Linked DNA regions of Homo sapiens: region 2 is linked to region 1. Evidence: fine-mapped expression QTL. A gene starts in region 1. The other region holds a variant in brackets. All regions are shown on one strand. Distances are from middle to middle.

Region 1 (16,489 bases):
TCATCAACAGGAGCAGATGGGGGCCAGGAACACACACTTATGTGGCCACAACTACAAATAAAACTAACTGATTAGATGGTAACCACTTCTGAAAATGTCACCTTAACTCCACTTTGTGTCAGCATTTCCTGCTGTTGAGTTCATGCTAACTAGTACTGTCTCTGTTGATTGTTAACTTTTAATTCTCACAGGGGAATGATAAATGATAATACTTTTCCCGTTTTACTGATTTCTTCATAGATTTTTCTCAGAATTTGGAAAAAAATATGTAAATTTTATAGGAAATGACAGGAGGGAATTCCTACATGGAAACTGTAAATAGACATGTCATTTCTCTGTAATTTAGAAAGCTTCAAGCTGCAATTAATAAAATGCAACCTCAAAATAGACTAAATGATAAGGGGATTGATTATATCACATAACAAGAAGTTTCACGCCATCTGGGGTTAGTTAATTCAGTAAGTCAGTAACATCAACAAGAGCTCAGGGGCTTACCACCTTCCCACTCTATCATTCCAGGTATGTGGGGTCCCTTTTGGTCACAAGGTGGATGCAGCTGCTTTGAAGTACCACAGTCTCATATACTAACATCCAGAGCAGAAAAGGGACAATCTATTTCTTGCCATTTTGGTTTTTTTAGTTTTAATGCATAATCTTTCCCTGACACCCCTCCAATGACTTCCTCATCCTTCATTGGCTAGAACTAACATGCTCATCCTTAAACCAATGACAGCAAGGGGGAAGAGGGCCACCATAATGGGTTTAGAACAATCTAGTTTAACCTGAGGTATGGAAGGGACACTAACTGTTGTGTACACCAGCCATTCTCTAACGATCTCTTTGGTTTTTTTTTTTTTTTTGAGACGGAGTCTTGCTCTGTCGCCCAGGCTGGAGTGCAGTGGCGTCATCCCGGGTCACTGCAACCTCTGCCTCCTGGGTTCGAGGGATTTTCCTGTCTTAGCCTCCCGAATAGCTGGGATTACAGTAGGGTGCCCGCCACCACGCCCGGCTAATTTTTGTATTTTTAGTAGAGATGGGGTTTTGCCATGCTGGCCAGGCTAGTCTTGAATTCCGGGCCTCAGGCAATCCACCCACCTCAGGCTCCCAAAGTGCTGGGATTACAGGCGTGAGCCACCACGCCCAGCCACGATCTCATGACGTCTTAAAAATTATTGAAGAATTCAAAGAGCTTTTTTTTTTTTTTTTTGAGACAGAGTTTCGCTCTTGTTGCCCAGACTGGAGTGCAATGGCACAGTCTCGGCTCACTGCAACCTCCGCCTCATGGGTTCAAGCGATTCTCCTGCCTCAGCCTCCTGAGTAGCTGGGATTACAGGCATGCAGCACCACGCCCAGCTAATTTTGTAGTTTTAGCAGACACAGGGTTTCCCCATGTTGGTCAGGCTGGTATCGAACTCCTGATTTCAGGTGCTTTGCCAGCCTCCGCCTCCCAAAGTGCTGGGACTACATGCGTGAGCCACCACGCCACCTAGAGCTTTTGTTGATAAACATCAATAGCTACTGATGTTTATTTTATGAGAAAAATTTGTTATTAATTCATTTAAAATAACAATATTAAACCCATCACTTGTTACTATACTGTGGTAGACAGAATAATGACCCTTAATGATGGTTCATATCCTAATCCCTGAAACCTGTGAATATGCAGATATGATTAAATTAACGATCTTGAGATGGGGAGATTATCCTGCATCATCTAGATAGACCCAGTGTAATCACTCATGTACTTATAATTGAAAGAGGGAGGAAGAAGGCTCAGTGTCACAGTGGTATGGCATGAGAAAGACATGTCTGGTTATTACAGGCTTTGAAGATGGAAGGGGGCCATAAGCCAAGCATTGGGGGTGACCTTTAGAATCTGTAAGAAATAAGGAAATAGATTCTCCCCTAGGGACTCCAAAAAGAAACACAGGCTCACAAACATGTTTTAGTTTAGTGAAACCTATTTCAGATTTCTGACCTCTAAAATTATAATGAATTTGTGTTGTTTAATCCACTTAATCTGTGGTAATTTGTCACGGTGAGAGGTGACAGCGTGCTGGCAGCCCTCGCAGCCCACACTCCCTCTCTGCGCTTCCTAGGCCTTGGCGCCCACTCTGGCTGTGCTTGAGGAGCCCTTCGGCCCACCGCTGCACCGTGGGAGCCCCTTTCTGGTATGGCCAAGGCAGGAGCCGGCTCCCTCAGCTTGCCGGGAGGTGTGGAGGGAGAGGTGCAGGTGGGAACCCAGGGCTGCGCGTGGCGCTTGTGGGCCAGCACGAGTTCTGGGTGGGTGTGGTCTCAGCGGGCCCGCAATTGGATCGGCCAGCAGGCCAGCAAGCCCCGGACAGTGAGGGGCTTAGCACCTGGGCCAGCAGCTGCTGTGCTCCTTCTCGATTTCTCTAGGGGCCTTAGCTGCCTCCTAGCCGGGCAGAGCTTGGGACTTGCAGCCTGCCATGCCTGAGCCCACCCCGCCCCTCCAATGGGCTCCTGTGCAGCCGGAGCCTCCCTGACGAGCACCACTCCCAGCTCCATGGAGCCCAGTCCCGCAGGGTGCGGGACTGGCAGGCAGCTCCACCTGCAGCCCAGTGCGGGATCCAATGGGTGAAGCCAGCTGGGCTCCTGAGTCTGGTGGGGACTTGGAGAGTCTTTATGTCTAGGTAAGGGATTGTAAATACACCAATCAGCACTTTGTATCTAACTCAAGTTTTGTAAACACACCAATCAGCACCTTGTGTCTAGCTCAGCGTTTGTGAGTGCACCAATCAGCACTCTGTATCTAGTTAATCTGGTGGGGACTTGGAGAACCTTTAAGTATAGCTAAGGGATTGTAAATACACCAATCAGCACTCTGTATCTAGCTCAAAGTTTGTAAACACACCAATCAGCACCCTGTGTTTAGCTCAGGGTTTGTGAATGCACCAATCGGCACTGTGTATCTAGTTAATCTGGTGGGGACTTGGAGAACCTTTATGTCTAGCTAAGGGATTGTGAATGCACCAATTGGCACGCTGTATGTAGCTCAAAGTTTGTAAATGCACCAATCAGCACTCTGTGTCTAGCTCAGGGTTTGTCAATACACCAATTGACACTCTGTATCTAGCTAATCTAGTGGGGAGGTGGAGAACTTTTGTGTCTAGCTCAAGGATTGTAACTGCACCAATCAGCACCCTGTCAAAACAGACCAATCAGCTCTCTGTAAAACAGACCAATCAGCTCTCTGTAAAATGGACCAATCAGCAGGATGTGGGTGGGGCCAGATAAGAGAATAAAAGCAGGCTGCCCGAGCCAGCAGGGGCAACCGGTTTGGGTCCCCTTCCACCCTGTGGAAGCTTTGTTCTTTGCAATAAATCTTGCTGCTGCTGACTCTTTGGGTCCACACTGCCTTTATGAGCTATAACACTCACTGCGAAGGTGTGCAGCTTCACTCCTGAAGCCAGTGAGACCACGAACCCCCTGGGAGGAACAAGCAACTCCAGAGGCCCTGCCTTAAGAGTTGTAACACTCACCGCGAAGGTCTGCAGCTGCACTCCTGAGCCAGCAAGACCATGAACCCACCAGAAGGAAGAAACGCCAAACACATCTGAACGTCAAAAGCAACAAACTCCAGACACGCCATCTTTAAGAACCGTAACACTCACCGTGAGGGTCCGCGGCTTCATTCTTGAAGTCAGAGTAAGAATCCACGAATTCCGGACACAATGGCAGCTACAGGAAATGAATATATACTCACATTTTAAAATGAAAAACAAAAACAGGATCGGTGCGGTGGCCCACGCCTGTAATTCCACTTTGAGAGGCCGAGGTGGGTGGATCATTTGAGGTCAGGAGTTTGAGACTAGCCTGGCCAAAATGATGAAACCCCGTCTCTACTAAAAATACAAAAACTAGCCGGATGTGGCACGCACCTGTAGTTCCAGCTACTCGGGAGGGTGAGGCAGAAGAATTGTTTGAACCTGGGAGGCGGAGGTTGCAGTGAGCCGAGATTGCGCCACTGAACTCCAGCCTGAGCGACACAGAGAGATTCCATCACAAAAAGAAAAAAAGCGAGAAGAGGAGTGCACTGATTTACATTTTTGGCACATTTCTTTAACAGCTGATTAAGACAGGTGGGTTCTCGTATCTGGTTCTGCATTCAGTCTGTTGTGATACCACCTGTTACAGTGTCATTGGAAAACTCCACTGTACACACAGGAGAGAATGTAAGAAAAGCAAATAATTTCCCAGTATTGTAATAAAAATAGTTTTGACTTCATGGACCTCCTAAAAGGGTCTTGGTGATCCTTAGGGGTCCCGAGACCATACTTTGAGGATGGCTGGCGTAGGAAGTCAACAGTGTTTCCTACATTCTCCAAAAGAAAAAGCTTTCCCCCCCCCGCATATTCTTACACTGAACTTGTTTGGCCCTAAGGTCTTCAGATCAATGCAGTGTAATCCTCTTGACATTTCTTCATTACTTCAAGTAATACTTAAAAGAGTTTATTTTGTGCCTGGCATTGTTTTATGGGCTGAGGCTATGTAAGTGAACAAAGTCCTCACTTAACGGTGTCATGCTTAGGTTCTTGGAAACTGTGACTTTAAGCAAAACGACAATAAGCAAAACGCATTTTACCATAGGCTGCTATAAACAAGCATCCTGCAGGTTATTTCTGGTCACAAAACATCACCAAACTTCTAAATAAACACCCCCAAATACTTGTAATATTGAAACATTGAAATAAATGTGAGCTATACATACACTTAAAGATTAATAAAATTAGGATAATTAAGTTTTTTTTTTTTTTTCAAGACGGAGTCTGGCTTTGTTGCCCAGGGCTGGAGTGTAGTGGTGCGATCTTGGCTCACTGCAACCTCCACCTCCCGGGTTCAAGCAGTTCTTCTGCCTCAGCCTTCCAGTAGCTGGGATTGCAGGCGCACACCACCATGCCCGGCTAATTTTTTTGTATTTTTAGTAGAGACGGGGTTTCACCATGTTGGCTAGGCTGGTCTCAAACTCTTGACCTCAAGTGATCTGCCTGCCTTGGCCTCCCAAAGTGCTGGGATTACAGGTGTGAGCCACCATGCCCAGCTAGATAATTAAAATATTTACCCAGCTATTCCAGTTCTGAGGTGCAGGTGGCTGGAGCCAATCTAGACAGCTCAGGGTGCAAGGCAGGAACCAACCCTGGACAGGCCATCAGTCCCTGCAGGGCACACTCACACACACTCACAATCACTCACACTGGGACCATGTGGATACTCCAATGAACCCAAGGGGCATATCTTTGGGATGTGGGAGGAAACTGGAGTATCCAGAGAAGACCCATGCAGACAATGGGGAGAATGTGCAAATGCCACACATACAGTGGCCCTGGCTGGAATCAGTTTTTTTTTTTTTTTCTCAGCCTTGTAACAAAAGGACGTTGAATGAAACGACATTGAATGAAACGATGTTATTCAAGGACCTGCAGCACAGTTGTTTCCCTTATGGAGCTTCCATTTTAGTTGAAGAAAAATAATAAATATATAAACTAAGAAGACAATTTCAGATATTGATAAGGGATAGAAAAGGGATACAACAATAAGTAATAACAGGAAGTATGAGGGGTGTTTTGAGTGGTGGGCCAAGGGCTATTTAAACTAGAGTCTGCAGAATTGCTATTAGAGCTGAGATATAAATGATAAGAAGGAATCATTGGAAAACTTGGGAGAACACTCCAGGTAGAACAGCAGGGACAAAGAGCAGGAAGGAGCTTTGCAAGTTAGAGGAACAGAAAGGAAGCCAATGTGACTTGAGTGTAGTCCACCATGGTAATGAACAAATGGTATAAAACAGTCGAAAAAGTCAGGCAGGTTTAGATAATTCAGGTCTTGCAGGATACAAAAAGGACTTAAGGTTTTATTCCAATTGCCATACAGACCGCTAGATGAAATGAGACTATGGAATCCTCTTAAATGCTAGGCTTTGCTTCCTCCTGTAAATTCTTCCACCTTCTCCAAGTGCTGCTCTTCAGCCTAACACATGCCCCATTTTTATCATGATGACTCTCCAGAAAGGCATGAGATCCCAAACAGACGCATCTTGCCTCACATAAATTGTTTGTTATGCTAACGTCAAAAACAGACAGATGTGGAACCAATCAGGGGAATGTAAATTACAGGTCGCTTGATGTGGAGTAACTTCTGCATGTTGGTCAGTGTAGGTGCGCAGCCAAAAATGCACTGTGTGAATACAATTGTTTGGCAATTGCTGATCTGTCACTTGTCCAAAGCGGTAAGTGTGTGAATGGATTTGTATAGGTAATGATTCTGAAATTAGCAACTAGCTTTTCTCATCTCTCCATGATGCAAGAAAAACATACTGGAACTTGGCCCATTTCTGGAAAATTCTTGTGATGATCCTCAATTTTTCAAAATGCACATTTGGTCATCATTATCCCTTGTGTAATCAGTTTCTGCAAACTACAGGATGATGTTAGTTATGTTTAGAGAATAAGGGAACATGCTCTACACCTTAATCAAATCATTTAAAGATGAGCCTTCTTAGATAACACACATTTAAATATATATATATATAGATGGTCGTTGGGAGATCTAGTCTATACTTTGATTTATGCTGTAGTGAGAGAAGTAATCTTGTCTTTCATTGGAAACCTGCAGATGCAACCTGTCCCCAGAACTCTAAGGTATTTACGATAAATAATATGCGAGAAGTGTTTACCACACATTTTTCCACAACAAAATGATGCACAGAATCCACGAATGCAGAAATCTTTGAAAGGGCCAGGAAACAGTCAGGAATTTGGACCCAATCAGTATAGGGAACTGCAAGTGCGTGTTAAAAAGCTGGATCCACGTGAATAATAAGCCTAATCCCATTTTCTTTCTTTTTTTTTTTTTTTGCAGATGGAGTCTCCCTCTGTCGCCCAGGCTGGAGTGCAATGGCACGATCTCGGCTCACTGCAACCTCCATCTCCCGGGTTCAAGCAATTCTCCTGCCTCAGCCTCCTGAGTAGCTGGGATTACAGGCGCCCGCCACCACAGTTGGCTAATTTTTGTATTTTTAGTAGAGATGGGGTTTCACCATGTTGGTCAGGCCGGTCTCGAACTCCTGACCTCAGGCGATCCGTCCGCCTCGGCCTCCCAAAGTTGGATTATAGGCGTGAGCCACCGCGCCCGGCCACCTAATCACATTTTCAAGACAGCTGTGGCTACTTGGGACTCTCATCAGCGGCTCCCGAAAAATTTAAAAAAATCAGTTACTGTGAAAATTTATATTAAACTAAGACCGGACTCTGCAAAGAAAATAAAACCATGTAATTCCAAGGCTACATATTTTCAAAGGAATTTAATTCTGTCCTCTGAATGCAATTAAGTAGTCTCTCTCTCTCTCTCTCTCCGTTTGAGGAAGAGAGAAGGGAAGAAGGGATGATTCTCACTTTTCACTAGGAACCGGTAACCATACCTGCTGTTCTGCCAAGTCTTCGCCGATTCTCTGATTTCTTAGTGCTCAGGGAGTATGCTTGAAACCTATGCCTTCCTCCCATGTTAGATAACCAGAAAGTTTGCTGTAGTTATGATAAATCTGCATAACTCGGAGATGTTTTTGGCACAAAGTGTACGTTAGTTAGATGATGATGATTAAGCTCCCCCCCCACCCCCGCCCCATTCTTGCGGCCGGGGAGTGTGTTTTGCCTGTATTTAAGAAATATCGTTCAGCTGCAGGCGTGTGCGCGCTTAGGCTGTAGTCGGCGTTTCTGAGTCTCCAGGGCAGGGTGACTTGGGTCGGCTGAGTGTCACCCACAGATGTGACTGTTCTTTCCCCCGCGGGCGCGACAGCCTCCTTCCTCTCCAGCCCGAGGCCCGCGGCCCAGACCACGGGAAAGGGAAGGAAGCCCTCGCCGCAAGCCGGCGTCTGGGCCGGCACAAAACGCTCCGCCACCAGAAAAACTTTTTTCCCCCAGCTGCGCGCAACTTTTGGCCTTTTCTCCCAGCACGTTCGCGTCCCAGGTTTCTGTCCGCTGGGTTTTCCTCCGCCTCACTCGCCTTCTCCCCAGCGGCGCGCGGAGGAGCTGGGCTGAGAGGGTCGCGGGGAGCCGGGTCGGCCGCGGCTGGGACGCTGGGGAAGGGGCAGGGGAGGAGGGGGCGTGCGGGGCTGGGGAGGAGGAACTGGTCAAAGGGGACAGAGACGCCCGAGTGCCCGAAAAGGAAAGAGCTGCCGCGGTTTGCTGCAGTCGGAATAAAGTTCGCGCCCTTTCCTCGGCGTTTCGCAGCCTCCTCTCCTTGCTCCGCTCCCCACCCCCGCCCCGCAATTTTTTTTTGTGTGTGTGTGACAGCTGGGCGCTAGCGGCCACCTCTACCTCCACGCCCGCAGCTCCCCGGGGGGGGGGGGGGGCGCCAGGGTTGTTTTTCCATCCCCACAAAGTTGTTTTTTCCATCCCCAGAAAGAGAGAGCAAGAACAACCCAAACAACAAACAAGCCCCCAAAGAAGTCACGGGGCGGTGGGGGGAGGGAGAAACATACATCCTCCTTCCCCAAGCCCCTGGACCTCTGAGGACAAACAACACAACGACCGACTTTTATTTTGCAAAAGGGAAGCAACATTGTAGTCACGACAATTCTGCAGAGAGAGGAAAAACTTGTGGGGCTTGCACGGCCGCCGAGGTCACCTCGCCCGCCGGTCCCCCGCCTCCCGCGAGCAGGGCAGCCCCCTCCCGGGACAAGCCGTTCCCTTTTTTTTTTTTTTTGTCCCGAGGAGGAGCCGGGGAACCGTGCCGGCTGGGACTCGGGGCGCGAGCGCGACCCCGGCGCGAGTGTAAATCAGTCACCTGAGCGCAGAGGGGCCGCGGCGAGGGCGCGCGCGGGCGGGCGGGGAGGCGGAGGCGGCGAGAGCGGAGGCCCGGAGGAACTCGGAGGGGGAGGGAGAGAAAGGCCGAGACGGAGGGAGCCAGCGGCGGCCGAGGGGCTGGTCCAGGCGCGGCCGCTAAGAGGAGACCAAGAGGCGGGGGCTGCACTTGACAACCAGCATGCCGAGATGGTAAGAAGTTTCCACCCTCCTTCCTCTTTTATTCTAGACTTCCTCAGAAATGACCCCCGCGCCCGAGCGCCACCGGGGCCGCCCGGGGGCCGTGTCCGCCCTCCGGCCCGCGGCGTGAGGGGCAAGGGGCGCTGAGGAGGGCGGGCCGGGGACCAGAACCCCGGTCCGACCTGATCCCCGCTGCGCTCCCAGTGGCCTCCCCTAAACTTGGCCCCAAGTTTCTGAGGCGAGCTCTAGGTGGGAGGGTGCACGTGAGAGGGGGCTTCTCAAGGTCGGCCCCGCTCGCGGCTTCCGCGCGAAGGTGAGCGGCTGGCTAGGGGAGGCTCCAGGGCGTTGGGGACGGGCTGGGGGGACGAGGTGGAGGGGAGTGGGGGATGAATGGAGCGCTGGCAGGAGCTCGGGGAAGAGAGGAAGGCGGCTGGGACCTACGGGAACTTTTACAACTTGCCGCCGAGTGAGGGACCGGCGGCTGGGCGTGGGTGCCGGGTGCGCTGGGGCGCAGCCGCCCGGGCCCGGCACGTTGACTCTTCCTCTCCCCTTGTCTTCACATTCGGAATCTTCCCGTGGTAAATGGAGATGGGAGGAAATGCTCCCGCAGGCTTTACGGAGAAGGTGCAGAACGCAGGGCAGGAAAATCAACCTTGCAGAGACGGCTCTTTTCGAAGTGCAATTCTATAGGAGCCGATTTGTTTTACTTGCACGTTGACTGGAGGGTGGGATTTGGGGCCTGGGGAGGGAGCAGAATAAAAAATTATATATGCTGAAAAACCCTAGGTGAAATCTCCTGTGAAGTGAGTTTAAGGTTGAAAAAAAGTTCCAAGTGCAAGTGGTGGAGGAGATGGGCTGGCTTTGCCAAGCGAGACTCCAGCACAGCCCCTCTACGAGAAGCGACTTCTTTGCAGCGAGGAAGCGTGCAATTAGTTCGCCTGGTGATGAGCCGCTCTGTCCGCTTTCGGGGAAGTGATTTGTTAGAAATGGGGCTTGACCACTCCCTTCTTTTTAGTTTGCTTCCTCCCAGCGTCGCTATTGTTACCCCCACTTGGGGATCTGACATGGTGTATTCCGTATATAGAGGGAACATATGAGAATACAGGTGAGATAGCGGGTTGGCATTTTTTCCTCTTCCCTGCTCCCTAATGTGACATCTCTTGTTTCAGTGATCAAAGTCACAACTGGAGTGTAGGAGATGGGACTGTCAAATGCAGGGGCGCGTACACACACACACACACACAAAAGCAAGAGCCCAGGACTGTGGTTACAGTAACGCTGACAGAAATTAAAGTGGTTTTGAAAGCAGCGTGCGATTTATGATGGTTCCCATTTACCCTAGAGTCAAGCTGTTGTAAAACTGACGTACAAAAGACATCATAAAATAATCCTGTGTACCCAGGATTAAAGTGGCAAAAAGTGGCCTGTTTTATTTTTATATACTTCGTGGACACTTGGAATTGTTGAAAGCCGTGTTTAAGTGAGACATCACAACAATATTAAATATATCTGTTTAGAGCTTGAGAGTTTTTCTTCTAACGGGCGTTTTACACAAGAACACTGTAAAAGCCGGTGGCAGGTATTATTTTTCTTCCCTTTACCCTAGCCTATGTTAACTATTTGTCTACACATGTATTCCTATATCCTAATGACTTTGAACTGTGGCTAAGCCTGTCTGCCTTCCACTGCTTTGTATTCTGCAATTTCACGTGTTACTGTCCACACGCATACATGCTTTAAATGGGAGGAATTTATTTCTGGCACGTTACTTAGTGTGTCTGATCTGAAGATGTACCCTAGTAGTGAGACCTTGTACAAGTTAACAGAACATTTACTTTTTGGACAAACACACACACACACACAATCCCTTGTGAGCCTTTAGAGAGTATCTGTGTTTTATATTTGTAGCCGTTTCATGTAAACTGTTCAGTCTTAATGAAGTTCTTAGTTCCCAGAGTGCGCTGTATTAAAAGTCCAGATTGCTAATCACTTTACCAAAGTACAGGAGTATCTTTACCTGAGGGAAGTAATAACGAGCTTGAACCTGAACTTTGTTTTGAGTATCTTTTGAGAAAGGTCTGAAACTTTTTTTCCTCTTGAGAATATTAAGTTGGGTGGTGTTTGCATGTAAGACTTTGAATAAGAATAAACTGTGCATTATATTTTACAATTAATATTAGGAAAATGTTAATAGCAGTACATTCCTACTACCTGATTTTTTCTTCTATTTGAGATGTAAGATATCTGTCAGATAGAGATATGTGATTACAAAAAGAAGCAGACAAAAGCAGAGCTGACTATTGCTATATTAAAATGTAAGTGTTACAGTTTGAATTTTCAAGTGAGAGTTCTTGAGTTCAGTGCTTTACATAACATTTTGTCCTAATCTTGCTTGCTGTCAGGGATGTTTCATGGTTGTGCAATTGCTGCAGTCAAGAATGCCAATTTGCATTCCAGGAGTGTCATTTGATTACTTTTATCTGCACAGCTCCAAGACCGGCCCAGACCTCTCGTTTCATCTTGCCATGTCACGAGTCAATGCTGTGTCGTCTTTTCAAAAATCTGCCTGATTTAGACAAGAAAGAAAAGTACTTTCATGTTGCAGCCGCAGTCCCCTGCTAACTTGTCAGCAGCAGGATATGATTCACTTGGGCCCAGAAGAATGGAACAGAGAGGCGGGTTAGGCGGTTCAATAAAGCCCACGGACAGGTAGTGTGTGACATCCCCAGAGAGCCGCAGTTAATGAAGAACAGGTCTGCTTAGTTCTCCACACGCTGACCTGGTGCTGTCCCCACAGTTTTCTCATTTGATCTTTCCCAGCAAATTGATCTTTTCTTGTATTTTTTTGCCTTCCAAGTTAGTCCTTGTGGGACTGAAATTAGCAGAGCAACTTAAGTTGGATAATACAGCTGTTCAGAAAAGAAGAAATTGGACACTGGCTCAAAAAGGGGTGGGGGTGGGGGGGTAGAGGGAGCTATTCTTTTTGTTGTTGTTCCTGGGAATATTTCTTATATTAAGGGAGTCCAAAATAGATGATGACTTGAAGTTAGTGGTTTCCTTTACTTTTAATTTTACAGTTAAGGGTTCAGCACGGTTTTAAATATTCCTTAAGTATTTGAAAGATGGCCTTAGTGAATATGAGGAGTTCAATTTAGTACTGTTCACATTCACTTGTTTGAGATGATTTGCCAGTTGACAATGTGGCTTTTATGGTTATTGTAAGATGGCATACTTCAACTGTATTATTTATAGTCTTCTAAACAACCTACGATCCCCAAATATCCAATACTAAATTGCAGGTAAGATTAAACAATAAAAAAGTCATTATACTAGTATTGTGTATAAATACTATGGTACATGAAAATGTTTTCTATACTATTAGCATCTTTGTTTTATATAAACCCCACAGATACAGTTCATGAAGTGTTTTTTTCCTGAATTTTTGAGATTCTGCATTTAAATGTAGATTTTTAAAACTGAGACCAGACCACAAGTTTGAATTTCTGTGGATGTTCATACATGTTGTTGTTTTTTGACATTAAAATTAATTTTAGACAGGATGGGTAAATTTATGTCGTATGGTTTAATCTGATTAAAGTTTCACTATAGAATTCTGTACATAAAGCTTAGGTTGGAAGCAGTTTATAGATTCTTAACTTGATAAATATATAAGGAGCAACGCTTTCTGATTTACTCAGCAGATGGTCTCATTTACCATCTACATCCTTACAAGAAACAGAGTGGAAAACATTTCTTGTGGAAGGGGAGGTAGCCTCCTCAAATCTTTCCTGTTGGATGGGAATTATATAGTATCATTGGTTAGTAAAATCCCCTCTGAAGAGCTAGAGGGAGCCTCATGATTTTATTAGATATACTTAAGGTTTAAAAAACACTCTGGCCATCAGAATGTTGCACAAAAAGAGTAGGTAATGAATACTGGCTCAGTGTTGAGGCTGGGAGGTGCTATTATGGTTTTTTTTTTTTTTTTTTTTTTAAAAGTGACAGAAGCAAAAGAACTTTCTACAAGAACAGTCAAGGCGTCAGCTAAGCTTTCTAGGCTTTTGCCTTTCAGGTGATTTGAAGATCAGGCAAAATGCAACCAGATACTATATTTTAAATGTTTTGGTTTGACTAACTACTGTTTGTAGTTTTTGTCAACTGAGGGAGTTACTCTCGTTTTAGGAGGCCAGTCTTCAGAGTTCTATTAAAAGTAGCTTCCTACGAAATCACCGAGAAGTGGGTTAACTTCTTTTAGTTTATGAAGGACAACCCCTTTTCTGTAAATGATGGTTTTGGAGTAGTTCTACATACAACTTCTGTATTCCAGAGAGAAATTTTCTTTAAAATAAATGCTTCCTGTTATAAGCATAAATGTTAAACTATTTATAAACCTGACTTATTATGGATCAAAAAATAAGTTAAAGAAATAGGATTTAAATGATATTACATTCAATAATTGTCATTTAATTTCATATTTACCACTTTCCATTAACATTTGTGATACAGTTATGTTAAAGAGTCATTGATCATAATTGCACTTTAATATTTATATACTAGTTTTTAGGAGCATTACTTTAGACAAACATATTTATCATTTAAGTAAATAATATAATCCAGTGAGATAAACTACCCAGATTTGTCCTTCTTAAAATCTTTTGCACAGTAGCTCTCATTATGTTGCTAGCCAATAAAAGTCTTTATTTGTTGCTTATTAGAACCCTCAGTACACTCAAGAGTTCAGCTATAATTTAATTTGGCTGTTCAAAGAGCCTCCCTTGTTTTGAAATATATTCTCAGTATGCTTTTACCATTTGTTACGAACCCATATTCTAACTCAATGCGTAAGAACCTATATTCTAACTCAATATGCGTAAGAATGATATTACAGATATATCATTCTTTAAGTTTTTGCTATCGTCATAACTTTTTTCCTTTAAAAATATCCGTACATAACAATATCAGTTTTGTTCTTTTTGCTCTATTTTCTCTTTGACATTCTAGAGTATTTTTCTCTTGGTGATTTAAATTGTTTTGCTGTTATAATTTAAAATAAACTTCCTAAGGAATACAACCTTCCCTTGAGGTATAGTGAGAAGGGCACCAAAAAATAATAGGTTCGATAATTAAGAATTCTAGCTGAGGCCATTTCACAGTTGCAATCACTTACAATTACAAAAAGTTTGCCTGGTACTTCACAAATTGCTAGTAACTGCTGTGAAGTTTTTCAATGAGTAGAAGGTGGCTTTGAGAGTTTTGGTTGTATTTGTAACAAATTACGTTCACTAAAGACTAGAACTTGACTATAAAACTCTAATAAGATGAGTATCAGGAATTCTTCCATAAGGAAGGCAGAATGTGAAACTCCTAAATGACTCACTGTGTATGTATCTTACCAGTGGGAATAGCATCAAGCCAGCCTTCTAGATACAGTATTTAATAGTTGTCAAAATGTACAGTATTGTCTTGGAACTTGTGGTTCATGAGTTCATAGTCCCTGCTTTTTTGTGTTTATTACAAAGATGTAACAACCTACACAAAACATTTTTCTCTTATAATGACCTTACATTTGCCAAAGTGCCCCATGCTGAAATTCCTTTTCAGTGTCTTTTTTTTTTTTTTTTTCAGTCCAAAGCCAGACGTGTACCCAGACACAAAAGCCTCTGTGTATAGCAAGCTGTTTTAAATATTGTGACTCGACGATGTGCTGTCCTTTCTCTGCTTGAGCCAAGGATCTCTGCTCAGTGTCTGTGGATTACCAAGCTCCTTCTTTATTGTACCTCTTGTCAACTATTCCTATTCATTTAACCTTTCATTAGTGTCTGTGCAGCTTCACTGTCTGGAAAGGCAAGGAAAAACCGAAAGGCCCCACTGTCACAGTTATTAGATTTCTCGGTTACATCCCAGCAACCGTAAAGAAGTAAGCGTCGAGACTATTGTCGTGCATGCTGCTGTCCTGGGGTGCAGCTCTTCTGTGCATGTCAAGGACATGTGCCACATGTTGATATGCATCCCAGGGATAAATGCACAACATGGGGGATAGGCCGACGCTGGCAGTAATGAGCTTTGTAGGAGTTATTGCAAAGACCAACAGTTTGTGAAGGAATTTTGCTTAACAGGCCAAGGAGATAGACAGAGTTGAGGGTTGCCAAGATTTGCCTGTGCGGGGCTTGTCAGTCACATTGTTTTCATCCAAACTTCATTTGAGGGGAAAATTGAATACATTTGACAGCAATGGAAAGTCTTATTTTCTTTTTTCAAATCTTTCAGAGGACAAAAGCAGTATTTCTGGTGACTAACATAACTATTTTTAGTACTGACTAAATCATATATATGAATGGATCTATTAGCAGTTTATCTTTTTCCATATCTAGAGAATAATTAAAAGATATTTCATAGATGTCATATATATGTTTTAAAATCTATGTAAAAATAATGTAGCCTATTAATTTTCCTTTGCTCTTTTCCTCCTTTGATTTTCCTCTAGCATAGCCTGGTTCTTTAGAAATACATTTGCTTAATTGGCTAGATGCAGAGGAGAAAAAGGATGATAATGTGGTCATTTTCAAATCATAAATAAAATAAGTATTTGTAAATTTTGTATTGGAAAATATTATTTTAAAATCTTAGAGATGAAGAGAATTACCTTTTTAAGAATTCTGAAAACACTTGAATAGAAAATGGTACATTATAATACATTTGTCCCTCTTTACCCAAAAGTTTGTCTTTTTTTCTTTTTTAAACTAGGAGAACCGTTTTTACTGAGGGTAAATAAAATATTTTTGTCTCCTGATTTCAACAGATTTTGTCAGTTTTCCAAACTCTTTTGGGGTTCTCCAATAACTTTTCAAATATGTTAATGACTTATTGCCAAATCCCTGTAAAGTTATTTTTAATTTTTCTTGACCTTACCTCTTTTAGGCAAGGCTTTTTAACAGTTGTACTTTCTCTGTTAAGGTTTTTTTTGAAACGGAATCTCGCTCTGTCGCCCAAACTAGAGTGCAGTGGCGTGATTTTGGCTCACTGCAACCTCCATCTCCTGGGTTCAAGAGATTCTCCTGCCTCAGCCTCCCGATTAGCTGGGACTACAAGCGTGCGCCACTGCGCTTGGCTAATTTTTGTATTTTTAGTAGGGACAAGGTTTCACCATGTTGTCCAGGCTGGTCCCGAACTCCTGACCTCAGGTGATCCACTGGCCTCGGCCTCCCAAAGTGCTGGGATTACAGTGTGATCCCACAGTGAGCCACTGTGCCCAGCCACCTCTATTAAGCTTTTCTTAGTGTCTTGTGAAAGTATGGGCTAAGTTATCCTTGTTTTAGGGAGAGAGAGTTATTTTTCATAGTCTTTCCCCCAGGTGGGATGCTAAATGCCCAGCTATCCTATCCTAGGGCTATGCCCCAGCCTTTTGGCCAGCGGGCGGAAGTACTGTGTAGAATATATTGAGATGGGGCAGGGCGTGGTGGCTCATGCCTGTAATCCCAGCACTTTGGGAG
Region 2 (16,489 bases), 660 kb after region 1:
TCAGACTGCTGCTGTGCTGGCAGCGAGAATTTCAACCCAGTGGATCTTAGTTTGCTGGGCTCCATGGGGGTGGCACCCGCCGAACCAGGCCACTTGGCTCCCTGGCTTCAGCACCCCTTTCCAGTGGAGTGAATGGTTCTGTCTTGCTGGCCTTCCAGGCACCAGTGGGGTATGGAAAAAAAGAACTCTTGAAGCTAGTTTGGTGTCTGCCCAAATGGCCGCCCCGTTTTTTGCTTGAAATCCAGGGTCCTGGTGGGGTGGGGCACGGAAGGGAATCTCCTGGTTTGCGGGTTGCGAAGACCCTGGGACAAGCGCAGTATCTGTGCTGGAGTTCCTTGGACTCAGTCCCTCACAGCTTCCCTCCGGTAGGGGAGAAAATTCCCTGACTCCTTGCGGTTCCTGGGTGAGGCAACGCCCCAGCCTGCTTTGGCTTGCCCTCCGTGGACTGCACCCAGTGTCCAACCAGTCCCAATGAGATGAACCGGGTACCTCAGTTGGAAATGCAGAAATCACCTGCCTTCTGTGTCAGCCTCGCTGGGTGCTGTAGACCGGAGGTATTCCTATTGGGCTATCTTGCCAGCCTTAACAACAGATTTTTTTTTTTTTAAGCGATGGTATGTGATTGTAAGGATGAAAAAACAAAACTTGGGTTCTATCAGTGTTGCCATTTTATGTGACCTCTTGGAGTTTTTGGGTTTGAAATTCAAGACAGTGAAACAGTGCAAACTTTGAGATGTAATGTTGTTGTTTAATAAATATAAGTTTTAGTACATATATGAAATATTTTGCTGACTTTGACTAGTATCTTTAAGGTTGATATTTCTCCTTTTTTAAGTTGCTAATTGTTCGTTTTAAAACTAAATAACAAATAAAAATTTTATAATTGAATGCTACACACTGATTCCTAAAAATTAATGTGATATAGGGGATGGTATCAAATAATGACCTGCTCTGAGTATAAAATATATTAGGACATCCCTGCTTTCTAGAAATTCCAGAACTTGTCCTGGAAGAATTCAGACCTGAATTCATGACCTGGATGTTGCTTGGGTTGGTAGAGTTATCTTTTTCACATGCCATGGCAATTCAGGTCCCTCTGTAATCCCACTTCCACGCTACTTTTTTCCTCCCTGGTCCCCAAGACCTTCCACTCTGGACTGTAGTTCTCCTATCTATCTCATATTCCACAAAAAGAATTTTGAAAAACAGAGTCGACTATTTTTTTTCTTGTAAGCCTGCTACTTGTTTTAACCTCTTTCCACCTCCTGATTGCTTTATGGCCCCGCCTTAGTTCTTTGATATGTATAAAGGAAGCCTAAAGAGAAAGGGTGCTCTTGGAGAGTACAGATCAGTAGATTTGAAAGAATTGCCCTTCCCTGCCCCCAAATTAGAAACTGATCAAAACAATTGCTTAAGAAGTGAACTTGTTAAAGGACTGAAAAATATGAATCACTATCAGGGGATTTATCAGAAGTATTAAAAGAAGACATGTGGGACTGATTTCCAGAATAGGGAAGCATTATTTCCCTGGAAATAATCCAGGGAAAACATAGAACTGGGAAGTTCAATGTTTTGCAAGAAAAGGGAACAAATCTTAAGAGAAAAAGCCTCAGTATCTGCAAGACAACAGGACAATGGGGAATTAACATGGCATGTTTCTGAAAAACTGAGTTTGCCAAACTTGAGCTCTTTGCATATTTCAGTTTCAGGAGTTTCAGGATTAGCAAATACGGTGGCTTTAAACCACTTCACCTATCTTCCTGTCTTTGTTGGATTTGATGTGAAGACTAGAATAGGTGCAGCAGTGAGAAGTGGAAAGACCCTAAAATATGTGGTACAGCCCCAAACTCAGAAAAGAGGTTTTCAGCAAAGTACTGAAAGGATCTCTCTTTCTGGCCAGGGTTGTTTTGTCGATATTCTACAAAGAGAATCAAATAGCATAGTACTGGATGTGGGAATCCAGGTTTAAGAATCATCAATGTGATCGGGACCTGGGAGAATTAGCAGAGTCTGTGATCAATATAAATCTAGCTCTGCACACCTAGGCAGCTGAGAGTGTGAACTCAACTGGAGCTGACATGGGGAAGTAGGGTCCTCCGAGCCCAGCTGGCAGGGTGCCACCCTTTCAGGCACTGACAGAAGAGTGCGTTCAGAATAGACTCCCAGGACAGAGGAGTCTGGCGAAAAGTTGGAGGTTGTTAAACCAGAAAAAGAGAAGCGTCAGGGATCACACAAGTGACTTATTCATGTGTCTAAAGCACTGATTTGCAGACAAGAGACTGTTATGGTTTGAATTTTCCCCCCTTATATCCCCAAATTTGTATGTTGAAGAAAGCACAAGGAAGAGCATTCTAACAATTCAGACTGTCTGAGAGTGGGCTGAGCTGCCTTTTGGTGTAGTGTGCTTTGTAGTATTGAGGATGTGTAAGTGGAGATGGTGAGATGACCAGTTTCTGGAGCTATTATAGGGAAAATTCCCGCAAGCGGGGGATGCACAATCTCCAAGATTTCCTTCCATTGTAAAATTCTATGCTTCTAACTCCAAAAGTATTCAGAAACAAAAAATTAGCTGAAGATTTTAAATTAGGAATTGTTTTGTTTTGAGAAAGGACAGAATCTAAACGAGCGTTAAAAAAGAACCAGTAAAATGTAATTCTACACAAGAAAAAGTGCAAGTTTTTGTTTGTTTGTTTGTTTGTTTTGTTTTTTTGAGATAGTCTCACTCTGTTGGCCAGGCTGGAGTGCAGTGGCACGATCTCAGCTCACTGCAACCTCTGCCTCCTGGGCTCAAGCAATTCTCCTGAGTCAGCCTCCCGAGTAACTGGGATTACAGGCATGCACCACCATGCCCGGCTAATTTTTGTATTTTTAGTAGAGAAGGGGTTTCACCACATTGGCCAGGCTGGTCTGAAACTCCTGACCTCAGTAATCCGCCTACTTCAGCCTCCCAAAGTTTTGGGATTACAGGCATGAGCCACTGAGCCCGGCCAAAAAGTGCAAGTTTTCTTTTACTCTTAACCTAAGATCTACCCTCTTAGCAAAATTTTAGGTATACAGTATAATATTGTTAGTTCTAGGGACTACACTGTGTAGCAGCTCTCCTGGACTTATGCATATCACACAACTTCATGCCCTTTGTCTAACTTCTCCCCATTTTTCCCTCCCTCTGAACCTGGCAACCACCATTCTACTTTCTGCTTGAGTTTGACCATTTTAGATTCCTAACATAAGTGAGACCATGTAGTATTTGTCCTTCAGTGTTGGGCTTTTTTTGACTTAGCATAACCGACTCCAGGTTCATCCATGCTATCAAAAAGGGCAGGGGCTGGGTGCAGTGGCTCATGCCTGTAATCTCAGCACTTTGGGAGGCCGAGGCAGGCAGATCATGAGGTCAGGAGTTTAAGACCAGCCTGGCCAACATGGTGAAACCTCGTCTCTACTAAAAATACAAAAATTAGCCAGGTGTGGTGGGCGCCTGTAGTCCCAACAACTCGGGAGGCTGAGACAGGAGAATTGCTTGAACCCAGGAGGTGGAGGTTGCAGTGAGCTGAGATCGCGTCACTGCACTCCAGCCTGGGTGACAGAGCAAGGCTCCATCTCAAAAAAAAAAAAAAAAAAAAAAAAGAAGGCAGGATTTCCTTCTTTTCAAGGCTGAGTAGTATTTCATTATATGTATATACCACATTTTCTTTATTCATTTGTTGATGGACATTCAGGTTGCTTCCATGTCTTGGCTGTTGTGAATAATGCTGCAGTGAACACTGGAATGCAGATATCTTTTTGATATCCTGATATTCAGTTCCTCTGGAAAAGAGCAAGAATTAACAGGGAAAATATTTCAAGAACCCAATGGGCAGGAAGTACAAAAAGAACAATGATGCTGGGAAACACAGGGCATTGAATGATATTAAATATGTTGGATACCACATGGCTGCAGAACAGGGTGGCTTACTATGAGCAGTATCTGTAGCTTTAAGCCAGGCAGGTTCCTGTCCTGCCACTTAGGAGCTTTGTGGTCTTGGCCCATCTATGTAACTTGTCTGAACAAGAGTTTCCTCATCTCCAAAGTGGGACAATATCACCTGGATCACAGTGTCAGGAGGATGACATGAGACAATTAATGAAAACTGTGAGACATGTGGTAAGCATTTCAATAAAGAACTATGAATTTCATTACGAAATTAGCATCTGCAGAGCCAAAACCAAAGGCTTATTACACAGACACACACACAGAAACACAAATGACAAAATTAAAGCTTTAAAGGAAATTTCTTTGTTAGAGTCCATGATGTAAATAACAATCTTTCCTATGTCAGTGTAAAGTTTTATTTGCTAATATTTTATCTACACTAAATGATTAGAAATCATGATTTGCCACATCATTCCACATAGAACCAAGTGGAATGGTAGATTTTGATTTTTTTTTTTTTTTTTTTTAGTGGGTACCCAGCTCATTGGAAAGTACTGAAGGCGGTCCCATGTTTGAGACCGTTGGTCTGATGTATGGCCTTGGATAAACTTCTGTCATTCTTGGTTTTCTCATCTGCACCTAACTCATCAAGTTGCTGGGATGATGAAACGGGACTAGGCTTGGGCAAAGTGTTAAGTAGATGGCTGATGAGCATGTTACCATCGCATCCTCGTAGCTTTGGGATGGTGATTGTCGGTACTGGCTCTACCCCAAGGATAAATGCCATAAATACCATGGGAAGCAAGGGTCAATTTATCCTGATAGAGCCAGTCAAAACGAGGAATAATGTGTGAAATTAAGGTAGATGAGGCTTTCAGGAAAGGAAAAACTTCTGTTCAGCAGCATCTTTTAGATAATGAAGTGGTCTCTAAGGAAACTTGAAGGAGCTCTACACTGGAAGAAAAACTAAAATGGGCAACCACTCTGCCTACTGAAATATGAGTGATTTCAAAGCTTCTGCCTTCTCTTAGTGTTTGCCGCTTCTCCTTCCTCTTTTAGTTTTATGCTTTCCCCAAGGAAGTTCCTTGATCCAAATTGCTCTTTATTCGAGGCTGTGATTCATTCCTGGTGTGGTTTAAATTGGCCCATGTTTGTAGTATCTGATGCTAGAGTCGTGTCTTAAAAAGGCAACTGCCATCTTTCCCCCGGGTTCACCCTTGGTGCCTTCCTGTCACCCCACTCCCTGTTTGCAGCGGGCCGTCCACAGCCCGGCCTGGCTCTTCTGCCTCGGTGTCAGCCTCCTCATTAGGCATGCTCTGGAGCTGGCTGGTGTCAGAGCCGGCCGATGCATCAGAATGCAGGGCATGCGTCCGGCTCCTGGGAAGCTGCGCATTCCGCATGAAATATGAAGGCAACAGCCAGCCCAGGGGAGACCCCGGGTGGATTTAGACGAAGAGCAGCAAAGGTGGCTGTTGGGGGAGGGGCATTCTGCGGGGCCAGAGAGACAATGTGGGCACCTATCACATATTTTAAAGGCACTGCTTTGGTGGGGGAGAGGGATGCTGGGAGGGGCACCTGGTTTATGTATCCTCTTGGCCGCTCCTGACACACACTCCCTCGGTACATTCTTTCTGCATATGCTCATGGTATATCTGTGATTATGGTGATGTGCCCTTTTGAGATAGGCAGCCGGCTCACTCCCGGCTGTGCTCATCACTGATTCTTGAGTTTCTCTTTTGGGATAACCTGAAATCATAAGAGCAGTCCATGTGGATTTCGGAGCACCTGACAGTAAGAAACGTAATAAAAAGTAATGGTTGTCCAGCAAGCCCTGGGGATGCTTGTCACACACCACCTTGGGTCCACAGAGGTTAAGCGTGCTTAACAGGTGGTGACCTCAGATGGTTCCAAGGCCTGACATTAGAGCCTGTCCTCGTCTTTGTCCAGAATCCTCTAGTTTCCAGCCGAGGCTCCATGCTGGGGTTCCACCCAGCCATTCAGAGATGAGGAGAAAATCTTTCATCCCCACCATAGGCACTAAGAGATTACTGCATGCCTTAACATGTCATAGTGTAATGTGCTGTGCACAGACCCTTAGAACACTTACCCACTGTAGTGTGCTTGGTTTATGTGCAGGTCCCCGACTTAGCCACTCTATCCATGAAGAAGAAATGCTGTATTATTTGTTTTTATATAACCAGAGGATTGGTACATAGTAGGCACTCAATAAATACTGAGTAAATTATATTTGATGAGACTGTCCTCCCACACCATCACACATCCAAGTCATCAAAAAACACAAGTCTACTGGTCCCTCCAAATACAGAAATTTTGGGAGGCCAACTTTTCTCCCCTAACCTAAATCCACAATGCCCATTACAGTGTACTCAGGGTGTAATTCCATTTCATATCATTGATTACAGAGTATTACAGAGTATCCCACTTTCCTTTGATCAGAGAACATACACACACACACACACACACACACACACACAAAAGGAAGCAGTTTGCAATCCTTGTGTGTGAGATGAATGTGAAAGTTTTCTGCAAGAAACTCCAAAGCAGTGATGTCTCCTGAAAGCCCCGGCCATTTCTGGTTGGCAGTACTGCCTGCTGCATACCTTCCAGAGGTGCCATTCAGCAGGGGGGTTCCACACTGAGACTGCCCTGCTGGCTGGAATGCGAGGCAATATGTATGCTTGCTTTACATGTGGTAACTTTCAGTGTACAGAACTGTATTTGGTAACTTTCTGTTAATTTTATAAAAAGAAATTGGCTTTTTTTGTGAACGGAGAGGACTCTGTACTTCTGTTTGGTTCTTGATGCAGAGTAGCAGGAAGTAGCAGGATTCAACTAAAATGTTGGCTCTTCACAAGACCATAAGCTGCCTGGGAGCTGGGCATCCTCTCCCCTGTCCACGGCTGGGTTCCCAGTGGCTAGATCGTAGCTAGAACGGAGTAGACACGAAAACATTGGGTTGAGTGGAGACTTGGACCTGCACTGTCACTTAGAGAGGGTGTCACTTAAACAGATCTGTCTAGATCTGCACTTTCTGTAGCAGAGAAAGTATAGTGCCTTATCCTCTAGCCAGTAATATGTTCACGGTTGGGTCCCTTAGAATCCTCCCTGGTTTTGATATGCCTGTGCTGAGAGATAGATAGAATTTCTCTATTGGAGCTACCAAGTTGAGAGTAGGATGGTAATTCGAAAGAGTAGAGAATTAGGCTATTAGACAAAATATGGATATGGAGAGAGAAAGAGAGCCAGCCAAGCAGCTAGCCCTACCAGCATCATATGACTTTGTGTATTCAGCCCCACCTGGAGTTCTAACCCAGAATGTCTTGGTTATATGAACCAATAAATTACTGATTTATTTATTTGCTAGAGGTAATATAGAAGAAGGTTTTCATCACTGAAAACTAAAAGCAGTCTGACTGACAGCCTTGTTTCATACTATCCCTGTCTACTTTTAAAGCTGTTCATTTGCTCCATGCTAACAGCTAATCTTCTCTTTACATTTAATGCGTGCGGATCTCCTGAATGTCTATTTTCACATGGTGGTTATTTTGCCCAGTCCTTTTGCCTGCTTTAAGCACAACTGTGTTTAGGCCACATACTCAGGCCAGATATATCTGTCCCACGCAAAGACCATAGAGAGAAGGAATACTTCACATTTCTGGATAACAGACCTAACAGTTCCCGCTGGTGTTGGATCCCCCAGCCCTACAGCACACAGCACCCCTTTGACAGTACACATTAACTCTGCAGTGGACCTTGGGGATGGTGAGGACACCCTGCTCTGGACTCGGCTCTGCTGTGGCTGCACTCACTTGTTTGTTTGTAACTTGTTTTGTAGGAATGGGGCTTGGCCCCCAGCTAGACGCGAGATGGCTCGTTTTCAGAGAACAAAGGAGAGGGAAGAAGATAGGTGTTCCTTGAACATCTACTATGTGAGAAACACCACCCAGGGCACTGCACCTGCCTGTGAGTTACATAACTTCTCTTGTCCGTAGCTGTGGATGCAAAAGGCTCAGAGTAGTTCAGCAGTTGCTTGCACGTGGGCTGAGCTGTTTAGGTGACGGTGCAGGTCTGTCGAAATGCAAGCATCCATGCTTTTTCTACCACCAGCAAGTTGTCTCCTGGGGCCATATTTTGATTTGTTTTGTGCGGTCCAGACCACTCTGCACCATGCTGGCCACACTCTAAGTCCAATGATGACAGCACTGTGTTTATCTCCATTTCATACGAACCTAATGAGGAGGGAATGTTACAGAACACCCCCTCCATAGTGTGAGAGAATTGCTTGACATGGAGATGCACAGAAACAAGAGAAGTTTGGAGTCCAATTTCCTCTTCTGTGGCCCACCCAGCCTCTGGGGTTGAAAGCGTGGCCAGGGAAAGCGTTCTGTTCCCGTACACGCAGGGATGTCTCTGGCTGGGTGACAGCCACTGACCCACCTCGTTTTTGTTCTGCAGGTGTTGGAAAGAGGATGCAACCATCCCCAACAGGGAAGGGTGGAAAATGCTGCACTGTGCATGGGTGAGTGTGCACATGTGTGTATGTGTGGTCCTGGGAGCAAGGGCCGGGCAGGGACCAGTCTGCAAAACAACATTAAGAAACCGAAACATTTTCCACTGAGAAACAGAATTACTGCCCATGGAATTCTTACCCAGCCTGAGAAGCGAGCAGCAGCCCCTCCTTTTCATTAGTTAAACAAAGAGGGTTATTTTTCAAATGAAAACTTTCAGTGTGGAAAACAATCTAATTCCCGGGGCTTTTTGAGAAGTGAGATTCTCAGTGCTCCAATAAACATATCTACGTGGATATGCAGCTGCAAAGGCAGTGTCGGTGCGCTGACCAAACGAGAGGGCAGGCTTGGCCAGTGGGGGACACGGGGACTTAGCTTCAGGCCTCTCATAACAATCCCAGGTAGAAAGGCCAACAGAGGGAATGAACCGTGGCCTGGAAGATTTGAACTGTTCTGCGAGAGAAAAAAAGCGAAAACAAAAATATTTTCTGTAAGTCCATTAAATGATCTCCTTTCTTCCTCCAAGTCAATGAACTCCTTCTGGTCGGAAAATAATCTGCAAACTCAAGCCCTGCTTGGTTCAGTGGGGTGTGTTCCGCCTTATTGAATTCCTGGCCTTCAGAGATCTTTCAAAAAAAAAAAAAAAAAAAACTTGCACCCACTTATGAACCCGTGGGGTAATGTCAGCTTTCTTTTGAGGGGTTCTCTTCATGAAAGCTCCTGGGTACTTGCATTTGTTTAAGAGCGGGCAAGAATAGGAAGGCAGACTGCCAGGGTTCAAATTTTAGCTCTACCACTTAAAAATAGTGTGTGCTTACTCTCTCTGGACCTCAGCTTGCCCATCTGCAAACAGGAGTAAGAACGGTACCTACATCACAGAGTTTTCATAAAGATTACATGAGAAAGTGCTTACAAAGTGCTTACCACAGTTTCTGGACAAAGGAAGACCTCAAAGTGTGGCCATTATTATGAAGTCAAAGGGACATGGCATATGGTCACAGACCTGAACTTTTTAAATTAATAAATATCATTCTTTCAGGTTTCTACTTTTCCCATCTCACTAATGGAAAGCATGTTGTTTAAAAAAATAAAAGCAGACACAAAATAGCCTCTCTTCAAATCAGAGCTTCCTTCTCTAATCAGTCCGTGAATGTTTCGGGGAGTGCTCTATTTAACTTGGCTGGCCCCTGGTTTTGCCGTGAGTAATACACTGGGCTTCATTTCAAACTCCACACAGCCAAGATCACTGGATACTTGAGCTTCCCCAAGCTGAGTTGATACAGCTGCTCTGCCCCTGGTCACTGGTGAGTTGTCCCTGTGGATTCCAAAAGGTCTGAATACAAACAGGCCAAGGTGCATGGGCCAGCCGAGATGGTCAAGGACATGGGTTCCCACTGAGCAGGTGTCCAGGTGAGACAGACAAGACTGAGGAGGCCTGGGGAGCCCTACAGTGAAGTCAGAAGAAACTGAGACAGACAGAGGGTGGCCAGAGATTATGGAGAGAGGGGCCTCGCTGACACTTGGGGAGACCAGTGTTGCTTGGAGCATCCTTGCTCTTACAAAGGCAGCATAGGTGGTTGAAAGAAACCATCCTGATTTTGACGTTGCCACAATGATAAACGAAGGGCATGAAAACTCTCCAAATTAGGGTCTCTGAGACCAATTAGGTCAGACGATGAAGATAGATTTGCTTGAAAAATAAAATTGAGTATGGCTTTCTTTTAAACAAGGCTTCATTTCAAACGGACCTGAATAAACCAAATTCAATTTAGACATGTTATTCCCCAGGAACTTAGCTCTGGCATGAAATAAGGCTTGCCTGAGGCCACTTGAGAACCGCAGTCTGTGGGACAGCCCTGTGATGGACAAATAGAGTAGAGTGTTAATTTTGAGGCCTGTCGAACCCCAGTGACAGGCGGGCTGGTAAACAGATTGAAGAAGCTAATGACTATTTAGTGCTTTCCAGGACAGGAAATGTCTCTTTGGCTTCTGAGGTAGCAACACCCTTACCTTAAAAGGTTTGGATTGATGATCTGGGCCCAATAAAAGCCCCTTCTGAAATCTGTTGGGAAGCCCAAGCAGCATTTCAAAAGTGAAAGATAATGAAGATGTTCTAGAAGCAATATCATTATAAGTATACATTATAAATGATAATTACAATTAATCATATTAGCCTTCATAATCCCCCAACATTATAACTCAACAATGGTAGATTCATCTTCCTTGTGTTCT[T/C]TGGAAGAAGATTTTTGCCTTGAGCTACACATTTTCTCCTTTAATTTGACTTGTGGTGGTTTCTGCTTTCTGACTGATTCTCCGTCTCCTGAAGACAGGCATGTGATGGGGAGGGAGGTTTGGGAATTAGATGAAGTTGTGGGGTCATGATGCCCGGCAAGTTCTAGAACCCCAGAATTTACTTGGCCCCTGAAGGAGACACTCGAACAGCCCATCTTGTTATTTCAATGCTGTCAGAACTCTTTCTTTCATGCCTCTACATGTGAATCCATGGTCAGGCGTTCCCCAATCCCCGCTGCAATCTAAATCGGCCTCCTCCTTTTATTCTCTCTCATAATTCCCTCTTCTTTCTCCCCAAGCATTAATCATGGTTTTTAATCATTTCTTTATATTTATTTGATGTTTAGCTCCTCATTAGATATGAGCTCAATAGGAGAGGGGTCATGTCTACTTTGATCACTACCTAGCTTTGTGACTGGAATAGGCAGGCAACCTATAAATAATTGTGAATGGAAGACAGAGTGGGTTGCACAGCTTGGAAAAGCATGCCCCTTAGAATGAAGCCCTCTCTTCTTTCTCTTCCCATTGACACCAGACATTTACTATCTCAATATATGCCACAAAGGCCCACAGTGACTTCCCGCATGCTGAGTCCAGTGGCTTTCTGGGTCCTCATCCCTCGGTTGAGTTGTAGAGTCTGATACAATGAACTCTGCCCTACTAGAAAGCCTGCTTTCTTGGCTTCTGTGGCTCCAGGCTCCCCTCTCTGGTCTATGCTCACTGACTCCTTCCTCCTCTTATGCTGTAAAGGGACTAAAGCCCATGGTTCTGGACACAGCCTGATCACATCCTCATGCTGTTGCTTGTTTTGACAGCTCCTCCACTGTCTTGGCTCCAGCCTGCAGCTTTTGACTGGGACCTACAAAGTCAAACATTTCTAACCCTGAAACGCTCTTCCTCTTGCCTTCTTTTTCTTCTCCCAGTCACCAGGCTGGACAACTTAGTGTCTTTCCTCAACATCGTTCCTTATATTTTCCAAATAGTCAACATATGAAAATACTGAAAATATGAATTCGGTGTCTTCTCATTGTCTATGACTCAAATCTCTTGATTGTCCAGACCTTCCCATCTTTTCTCAATTTCCTGCTGCACATTATCCAAATTTCTCTTATGCCAATAATGCCTTTTCTATTAATACTGTCAACATTCTACCTTTCCTTTAAGGTTTATCTCAATTATTTCCCACTTTAAGTCCCCTGTGAGCTTCCCAATCAATTACAATTTCTCCTGCTTTTAACTACCAACACACTACATATCTTTCAGTTGGCATTCTCTTAACTTTTTATTGAATAATGAATTTCTATGTATTTGTCCATATTTTCAGGGAAAGCCTAATAAATAGATCCCTGGAGAGACTGACCTAGATAAATCAAAAGCATAAACTACTAACACACACACTAAAGACATTAAACAAAATATTAAGATGATATTATGAAGAATTTTATGTCAGTGGCTTTGAACATGCAGGTGAAATGGACACACGCCTAGAAAAATGCAAAAATTGACATAAGAAAAAATGGATAATTTGAATATTCACATATTTGCTAGAGAAATTGAATCTATAATGTAAATAGATTCCTACAAAGGAATCTTGAGGCCCAGACATTTGAGTGAGGAGTTATTTCAAACATATGAGGAAAAAAAAAAATGAGTGTTACACAAATTCTTCCAGGGACTGGAAAAAGGAATACTTTGCTACTCATTTTATGAGGCCAGCATTACTTTGATACTGAAACTTGTCAAGGACATTCCAGGAGAAGAAAATTATAGGCCAATCCTTCATTGTAATATAGATATGAAACTCTTGAGCAAACTAGTGGCAAACCAAATCTAGAGATATTTTAAAAGGATCAGATATCATGACAAAATAAAGTTTCTTTTAAAAATGCAAGGTTGGTTTAACACTAGAAAATCAATCAATATAATTCACCACAGAAACAAAATAAAGAAAAACCATATGAACACCTCAAAAGATGAATAAAAAGCATTTGTTAAAACTCAGAACTTGTTCATCACTGAAAATATAACTGGCATCAAATTAGGACTAGAAGGGAACCCTTTCATCTATAAAAGTCTGTACTTAATAATGAAATACGAACACTTCTGCTGGAGACCAGCAACAAGACGAGGATGTTCACTCTTACCATTTCTATGTAACAGTGTACTGGAGGTTCTAGCCAGAGTAGTTTAGACAAGAAAAAGAAATTTCAAAATTTAAGGATTAGAAAAGATACAAACCTGATAGTATCTGTGGACATGATTGTATGCATAGAATCTACAGGTGAATTATTAGAATGAGTCAGCAATTTAGCTAAACTAATGAATATAAAGTCAACATACAAAAATCAGCTATGTTTTTGTATACTGGCAACAAATATTAGAAAATAATACTTTAAATTTGATGCCATTTATAATAGTATTTAAAAAATTAAGCACCTTGTTAGGAATAAATTTAGCAAAATATGCACCTGACCAATGCACAGCAATGCAGAACATTGCAGAGAATAGTTTTTAAAGACTTAAATAAATGAGGAGATATAACATGTAAATTGGATTGGGAGACCCATAGTTGTAAAAATGTTAACGCTCTTCAAATTGGCCTATGCTTCCATGCGATACTAGTCAAAATCCCAGCAGATTTTCTTTCTCTGTCCTTCCTCCTTTTTCCCTTGCTTCCTCTCTCCCATGCACTCTCCCTTCCTCTCTCCCTTCCTTCTTAAAATTGGTAAGCTAATTCTAAAATTTACGTAGAAATACAAAGTGTCAAAAATAGTCAAGACAAAATTGAAAAAGAAGAAAGCTGAAGGACTTGTACTACCAGAGATATCAAAACTTACACAGCCACAGTAATTAAGGCAGTGTGATACTAGTGTAAATAGAGACAAATGGACCCATGGAACAGAGTTTTGAGGGTCCAGAAACAGAGCTGCATAGAAATCACCTAATTTACAACACGGGCACCACTGCAATGTAGTGTGTGAAAACAAATGTCTGGGTTAATTGGATTTCCAAAAGAAAAAAAATTCTTTGACCCCCTATCTCACACCATACACAAAAGTCCATTACAGATGGAACATAGGCCTAAGTATAAAAGGTTGAACAATAAAGCTTCTACAATATAACCTATGAGAATAACTTCATGAGCTTGGTGTAGATAAACCAAAACAATACATAAAATTTACTAACGATAAAACTAAAGGTTGATAAATTGGTCTCATTAAAATTAACAACTTCTCATGAAAAAAAGTAAAGAAAACACAGACATACATATACCACTCATAGAGTGGGAGAAGGTAAATATATCTAGAATATTTAAAGATTTCTTATATAACAACAACAACAAGATGACATATAATGTATTAAAAATGGACAAAAAATTATTGAACAGTCCCTTTACAAAAGAAGATGTCTAAATTTGTAACAAACTTATGAAAATATATAAAATTAGGTATGCAAACTTAAAATCACAATTCAATGTTAACCACTTTCTTATTAGAATATAAATTTCAGATAAATTGACAATGCTGAATACTGGTGAGAATCTGAAATGACGACAGGAATTCTTACATGCCATTAGCAGGCATGGAACCTGATGTCATGCTTTGAAAAATTGTTCTTGTGGTACCTACTGAAGCTAATGTACGCATAGTCTCTGATGCAATCAATCATTCTCCTAGATACATACACAAAGAGATCTGTGTATAAGGGCATCAAAAGTCACGCACAAGAATATTCATAGCAGTGCTATTTCGACTAGCCAGAGCCTAGAAGCAACACAAATGTCTATCAATCAACAGGAGAAAGGTGTTCATTATGGCATATATACAATGGAATACTATATAGCACTGAAAATAAACAAACTACCACTATGTGCAACAGTATGGATAAAAATTATAATGTTGAGTGAAGGAAGAAATGAAAAAATATTGTATGACTCTATGGACCTTCAATGACAGACAAAACTAATCTATACTGATGGCTGTCCAAAGAGGGGTCACTCTTGGAATGTGGGAGTAAAGATGGTAGCCTTACAGTAATGGCATTATTCCATGGCCAGGTCCGAATGGTGGTCACGTGGGTGTGTTCACTCTGAAAAATTAATCAAACTGTACACTAATGCTAGGTATCTTAGTTATACTTCAAATTATGAAGTTTATCAAAACAACCACAATAGCAAAAACCCTTTACCAGAGGATCTGTATGAATTCATTTAAGGCTTAGCATTCATTTTTGCAGGCTGCTTTGTGTCTTTGTAGTTCTGGGGCTGTCTGCCTTCATAGTTGCCATTGCTTCTGTCTGTTGACATGGTTCTATCACTTTCTTCTATTCAGCCCTTTGCTTTCAATCTAAACTTGATATATTCATCCTGATCCTTCATCTAGTTGTTTTGCCCTTGGAGCTAATTTCTCATTCTCAACTTCTATTTCAGCATTTCACAGCTGGGCATGGTGGCTCACGCCTGTAATCCCAGCACTTTGCGAGGCCGAGGTGGGTGGATCATTTGAGGTCAGGAGTTTGAAACCAGCCTGGTCAACATGGTGAAACCCCATCTCTACTAAAAATGCAAAAAAAATTAGCTGGGTGTGGTGGTGGGCACCTATAATCCCAGCTGCTTGGGAGGCTGAGGCAAGACAATCGCTTGAGTCCAGAAGGCAGAGGTTGCAGTGAGCAGAGATCATGCCATTGCACTCCAGCCTGGGTGACGGAGAGAGACTTCATCTCAAACAAACAAACAAACAAACAAAAACAATAACAACAACAACAACAACCAAAATCACATTTCACTAATAATGTCCCATGTCAGGTAGTTCTACTTCTTCTGTATATTTTGTTAATGGCCTTGGTTTAATTTTATTGCTTAAATGTTCACTCTTTCCTTAATTTTTTTCTGTTTTGGCCTAATGATTTTTATGTTCTTTTTATCAATAATTTCATAATTACTATTACATTATCTGCTTGCTTGGCAATCTTTTTTTTCCCTCCCAATATCACAACTTTTAAACAAAGCTTTCTCCTCTACTTTTCTGTCTAATGGGGTAGGAGTATGGGATACGGAATAGAAACTCTTTCTCTTTCTTCACCCTTTACATCCAGCAAAAAGAGCCAGGTGATCCGACATGCAATAGGAAAGGGGAAAAACAAAGATTCACAAATGATAACTAATACAAGTGCTTCCCAGTTGCCCAAAGTGGTTTAACATATTACTTTTCTTACAGATTTAGCTAAAAGGCCGTCTGACCTGAGCTCTTTTATGGAACTATTCGGCCTCGCTTTCATTTTTTCTTTTTAGAAATAAATCCTCTCGTCCTCAATCGGAGACAGTGAAGAAAGCAGGGAGTTTGTATTTTTTAAATCCATATGAAGGTTTTGGCCAGGAATTTTTCAAACACTAGAATAAATTTTTAATCTGGACTTTGATATCCAGACAAGCCCAGCTCAAGTTCTCTTGGGTCTCCTTTCCAAAGAACAGACTTCAAACAGACACTGCTCGCTGTCTTAGCAGAAAGGCACCACAGCAGCTGCGACGGCCGCGGTCGGCAGAAACTGCTGCACATCCTGCCTGTCTGGGCGGGACCTCCGTTTGCTACATTGCCCTGGGAACCAACACATCCTATTCCGTGGTCCTGAAGCAGCAGTCTTCAGAAAAGAAGGAAAGAGCATGGAGACCATCAGAGCAGGAAATGCTGGGTTCTCTGCTGACAGCATTCTCCATAACATGAGATTTAAATATTGAAGGGAAAAAGACAAACACTATTTT

The links. PIP is the estimated chance that this variant, and not a neighbour inherited with it, causes the effect.
Region 2: its variant is fine-mapped to the expression of BNC2 in thyroid (GTEx, PIP above 0.99).

What each region holds. Positions count from the first base shown.
Region 1 is chr9:16,863,168-16,879,656 of GRCh38, reverse strand. It overlaps BNC2 (basonuclin zinc finger protein 2), which reads left to right and starts at 8,987. Exons shown (of 7, transcript NM_017637.6): 1 at 8,987-9,011. The coding sequence starts at 9,009. RefSeq lists an enhancer at 11,024-12,223.
Region 2 is chr9:16,207,177-16,223,665 of GRCh38, reverse strand. It overlaps LINC03041 (long intergenic non-protein coding RNA 3041), which reads left to right. Exons shown (of 4, transcript NR_171034.1): 2 at 7,767-7,894; 3 at 8,387-8,450. Among named protein-coding and RNA genes, the nearest start is that of LINC03041, 61 kb to the left of the region's middle. The variant T/C (reference allele first, on the strand shown) is at 10,672.